Regions from separate parts of the Homo sapiens genome. Here region 2 is linked to region 1. The links come from fine-mapping of genetic effects on gene expression. A gene starts in region 1. The other region holds a variant in brackets. All regions are shown on one strand. Distances are from middle to middle.

Region 1 (2,928 bases):
TTCATAGGGAAGTCTTACAAACTGCCTATTAACTTCCAGAATGCCTGAGGCTGGGTAAGTAACCAGTGACTAAATGACTATTTCATTCACATGATCATTACATGATATTGCTGAAGAAAGTAATTTTACCTTTTTCAAATGCCTGAGAAATTTTGCCAACTAAAATGCCTAACTTTGAAAAGCCATATTCCCCTTAAAAAATGAATTCAGGAAGACACACACTGCCTCAGAATGAGCTGTCTTCTCAACATCCCAATCTTCCTCCTCATGCCTTTGTCATTGGCAATGTGCATAAGGCTGTCTGCATTCTCTTTCTGAATTCAGGGAATACTAGAAGATGATAAGATTCTTGATGTGATATAGAGACTAAATATGTGCTTTAAGCCTGAAAGAAGGAGCCATTTTTCAACAATTGTGGGTAGTCATGACATGAACATATATAGCATGATTATTTTCATCTACACAGCCCAGTATCGGATTGAACCATAGGGGTGTGCCTACATTTGACTTTTTTTTGTTTTTGAGACAGAGTCTCGCTTTGTTGCCCAGGCTGGAGTGCAGCGGTGCAATATCGGCTCACCGCAGCCTCCGCTTCCAAGGTTCAAGCAATCCCCCTGCCTCAGCCTCCCAAGTAGCTGAGATTACAGGAGCACACCACCATGCCCAGCTGATTTTTTCTATCTTTAGTAGAGATGGGGTTTCACTGTGTTGGCTAGGCTGGTCTCGAACTCCTGACCTCAAGATCCGCCTGCCTCAGCCTCCCAAAATGCTGGGATTACAGGTGTGAGCCACCGTGCCTGGCCACATTTAATTAACTGTTTTTGACCTATAAAAGTGGTTGTTTCTTATGCATTAACTAATAATAACGAAACGCTAACAAAACTTTATTTTTTCTCCTTATTGATTTCATAACTCTGTTTTTAGAAAAATGCAGCTAAGTCTTTAAGAATATTGTCATTTATCAATACTTATAATGTATAACTTATAATAGAAGGCAGGCAGTGTCTTACATCTGAAACTCCTTTTCTTTGGCAGCCGTATTAATTTTTACTCTTCTATTTGTATTGTGCTTGCACACCAAACTGATATAGATGGAAAACATATCTTATTTTCACCCTGACATGCATCAAAAATATGAATATATGTCTCTAGTTATATCTGTTAAACTGTTTTTGAAATTTCTCATCCTGGTATTTGAGCTGTAAATGCTCAGCAACAGTCAGTGACTAAAATGCAGCTGGATTGGGTTATGATCTCTGCATTAGGTTGTGTGGGAAGTGCTCTGCTCATGACTGCATACTCTTAAGCTTGGCCTTGGTGCGTATCATCAAGCAGGACTTCTTTTAAAGTGTGCAATCACTGTTTTGCCGATGTCCTTGGTTATATCACTACCATTTCAATGTGATTGATTGAAACAACTTAAATAACGCAACTGCCTTTTCCCTCTGGGAATATGTCTCTCCAAACCATTTTTCTTCAGCCTGATTCCAGGTGTGTTCAGGGGACACACACATACACACAAATCACATGTGACTTAGTTATGATGGAAAATATTCAAGTGAGCTGTTCATTTTTCTTACCTATTAATCCTTCTTCTCCTGTCTCCCGCAGTTATTATGTGGGCATGTGTGGAGATGGAGCTAACGACTGTGGGGTGAGTAGAAATGGCTTTTGCTCAGACAAGCCACTCACTAATATCCCTCTGGAGGACCTCAGGCTCTCCTGGGGTTTGTCTCTTCATCCTTCCACCAGCAACCATTTGATTATTTTGCTGTTTATATCCACCTCTACCTGAGTGTGGGTTGGAAGCGGAGGGGAGTAAAGGGAGATGAGACACTTCCGATGCTTTCTGGAAACTCCTAGAATAATAAACACAAAGGAAGGCTACTTAGACTCCCATATTTCAGGTTCCAAAGATGGAACTTTACAAGTCTATCTGCTTTAAATCTTTCCTGTTATCAGTAATGAAATGATTTCTCAAGGAGGTGATTTCTTCCCCCCTCCCAAGGTCACACAACTGATAAAGACTCAATGAAACGAAGTTTGAAACTGATGATTAAAGTTTTGAATTATATGTAAATTATATTTATTCCTGCCAAACTTTCATTCTCTGGTTAGTTTTTAAGTTTGCTTCACCCAGAACTCTTTCACTCAGTAAAATCCTAGACCAAACTATTTAGTTATTTTATGCTATAGAAAAAGCTAAATAAAATGATTATCAGCAAATTATTTTTCATATGCAGTAGAAGGGCAGTGAATGTTTTATATTCTGAGTTTTAAAGACATGAAGGAAACAAATAGTCTACCTTCAAGATTATGTACTTAAGGAAATATTTCAGTAGCTGATTTATGGGACAAGAAGTGAGGAAGATTTCTTTGTATTTCCAAAGCTTATTAGAGATTTAAGATCTTGGTATTTGTTTTATTTCTCTCTTAAATATTATTTCCAAATTTCTGTGAAAACTGTGTTTATAGCTAGAAATTTTTATAGCTAGAGATGTTTTTTGCTTTATGTTTCATGAGAAAAAGCTAATTTTTAGTCTGTTCTTTCAAATCTAGAATACGTATCCTCTCACATTAATTATGTGGCGTTTAGAATAAAACAAAAAAATCAAATGCAAAAAGGGACATAGTCTCTGCCTCCTAAAGAGTTCATTGTCTGATGAAGAAAGAATCATGAATAAAACTAACCCTAACATAAAGTAGATGGTCCTAAAGTACATAATAGAGATACGAACTAGAGATCAAAGAGGAAGAAGAAAATGTCCTATTATTTATTAAACCTGAATCTAGTATGTACTCATGGCGCCAGGTACTCTGTAGTTCTGTGGAACTACAGATATATAAAAGTTCATTTTATGCCCACACAATTCTTATAGGATCGGCCTAGGAATTCTTTCACCTTTGTTCATGAAGATTCCCACCAGG
Region 2 (2,928 bases), 930 kb after region 1:
GTGCCATGATTACATACTTCCACTTTCTATTTTTACTGTGCTCCCACACATTTCCCTTTCTGCCCACATGCAATTAATAACTAAGTCAAGACAATTTTACATCTTCACAAACTAGTCACTGGCATCTCTTGACTGGCCGTGTTGTTACTTTCTCACTTGTCTCCCTGCTCATCCTCCTATCTGTTCTCTCGTTATCAGTCTCTACTGAGCTTTTAAAATACAGATTAGATATCATTCTTATGCTTAAAACTTTTCAATGACTTGCCATTACTCCTCATAAAAGTGAAAAGTTTTAAATATAGGCATTCATTTTACAGGGTAATTTACATTCAAATTTAATAATTATATATTTTGGGGTAATACAACTTATTAAAGGGAAATGATGAATATACCTTATATAATTATGAATTATGACTGTCACACAATTTTAATTTATTTAGAACCAATCTCTTTTGTTTGATTACTTGCTCTATATTATAGCAAAGGAAGGAAAAAACATGTTATTGCTTGGGTAAACCAGCTGTTTTGTGTGACTGACTTTGTTTTTTATACCAACGTATTTTTTTTTTATTGCTATAGGTAATAGAGAAGACCACACTAAGAATTGGTAAGCGAAGAAAGGCCATTATTCTAGGACAAAGGTAGATAAAATCAAAGGCTACATTTGTGCAATGGTGTTTAGGTTTTATGGCTATATATTTGAAGTTCTACACCATTGGCAAAATGGGTACAGGGTGATCAGCCTGAGTGTAGATGGACTATAGCATAGCATTTGATTGATGTACAAGCTCAATAAAAAGTGTTATGCTAGGCCGGGCGCGGTGGCTCACACCTGTAATCCCAGTACTTTGAGAGTCTGAGGTGAGTGGATCACGTGGTCGAGATCGAGACCATCCTGGCTAACACGGGGAAACCACTTCTCTACGAAAAATACAAAAAATTAGCTGGGCGTGTTGGCACATGCCTGTAGTCCCAGCTACTCAGGAGGCTGAGGCAGGAGAATGGCTTGAACCCGGAAGGTGGAGGTTGCAGTGGGCTGAGATCGCAGCACTGCACTCCAGCTTGGGTGACAGAGCGAGACTCCATCTCAAAAAAGAAAAAAAAAAAAAGTGTTATGCTAGTCTACATAACACTCCCTATATGTCCTATGTGTCTGACTTTTTCCATTCAGAATTTCCCAAATGACCCTTGCTTTCACACTGCTTCTTCCGCCTTGCTCTGTAACATTCTGAATGATCTGAACTCCTCTTTGGGCCACTGTCCAGACTCTTGGTCTCTGAACTCCACACTTTCAGTTGTTTAAATTCACCAAAAAAATTCACCAAAAAGT[C/T]GTTTCTGACTTTGAACCTTTTCTTTTACTTCTGTCCTTGTGTGGAGTGTTATTATTTTTTACTCCTCATTTTTTCTGACACGTACTCACTTCCTCTAGCTAATTCCTTCTTTTTCTTTACACTCATCTTCAATGTTCTATCCTGAGGGAGCCATTTTTGACGCCCTAGGGTTTGGTGAGGTTTATCCTCCATAGCAGCCAGGACTCCTTCAGAACACTTCTCATATTTGTAATTATAATAACTGATTGTGGCATTATTTATTTAGTTTCTTTCTGACAAGAGGGTCAATTTCACGAGGACACTAGCCATACCGCCTTGTTCATAGTTGTGTTCCTTGGCGTGGTATCAAGACCAGGGTATTGGTGGAAGGAAAGATCAAGGTTAGGATGGAAGGAATGAAGGCAGGCAGGCAGTAGGTTTAGGATATAATTTTTGCTTGCACCTTATTTGGTGCGTATTTTTCAGAATGTACGTGGTCTTTGATTACCTGTACCTTGTTGTTATCAGTATTAACAAAGTCTTCAAGATCATTGTTGCTTTGTATAATAGATGGTCGGGTGCTGTTTGGAGAAATGTGTCTGTCAAGATGTCCAACCACCTAGGTCTGTGCTGTATAATATGGTAGCCACTAGCAACATGTGGCTTTTGAGCACTTGAAAGTGGCTAGTTGAACTGAGATATACTGTGATTGCAAAATACACAGTGTGTTTTGAAGACTTAGCATGAAGAAAATGAATGTATGATATTGCAATAATTTCTATATTCACTACTAATTTGGGATACATTATGTTAAATAGAACAAGTCATTAAATATATACTATATATAAATAGAATACTGTATATAAATATATACTCTATATAAATAGAATATACACTTTCACCTGTATATTGTGCTTGTTTAAAAATGAGTACTAGAAATGTTTTAAAATACTTACGTGGGGTTTGCATTATATTACTGTTGGATAGTACTGGCCTAGGCATGAAACTCAGCATTCTTTCCCTTGCTATTAGATCCAAGGGAGAGAAAGCCATTCTGGTGAAATGAGGTGACTATTGTCAACAATGTGCTATGAAATCTAACAAGTTGTACTCTACTTTTTATTGGACAATCAGGGGCAGGTTTTTCTGATTTTGCCTTACTATCTTGCTATCAGAAATTAGAATTTCTGTACATAAACACTATTTCTGAAATAACATAATTGTTACCATTTGATAGTGTTTTATGGTGTAGAGCATTTATTTATAGTTAGATTATTTTTTCTCTCTCATGAACTTATACTCTATTAGCCACCATCTATACTTTCTTTGCTAGATTCTAGAATGTGGTTTGTTATGTTTTCATTCAGGCAAATGAAAGTTGGTAAGGTTTCAAGCTTTGAAATAAGCCTGGAAATTTTTCCAATGAGATAGAAAATGTTGAAATCAACCATAAATTATCTCACAACCAATATTAAGTCTAGAACTCTGAATTTTAAGAAGACACCAGTCCATTAAGCAAACAGATGAAATATGCTTTGCCTAAAGGTTTATCTGCAGTGCAGTAAATTGTAATTCTTAATGAGACAAGGAAGGGAAACTTGGACACCTGGAACTGAAA

What was found. PIP is the estimated chance that this variant, and not a neighbour inherited with it, causes the effect. A credible set is the group of variants that fine-mapping cannot tell apart.
Region 2: its variant is the best candidate, but not a certain one, in a credible set for the expression of ATP13A5-AS1 in testis (GTEx, PIP 0.64).

Annotation. Positions count from the first base shown.
Region 1 is chr3:193,306,053-193,308,980 of GRCh38, reverse strand. ATP13A5-AS1 (ATP13A5 antisense RNA 1) reads right to left here and starts at 1,737. Exons shown (of 2, transcript NR_046758.1): 1 at 1,581-1,737. ATP13A5 (ATPase 13A5) reads left to right here. Exons shown (of 30, transcript NM_198505.4): 22 at 1,612-1,654.
Region 2 is chr3:192,380,176-192,383,103 of GRCh38, reverse strand. All of the region lies in intron 2 of FGF12 (fibroblast growth factor 12), which reads left to right. Among named protein-coding and RNA genes, the nearest start is that of FGF12-AS2, 130 kb to the left of the region's middle. The variant C/T (reference allele first, on the strand shown) is at 1,331.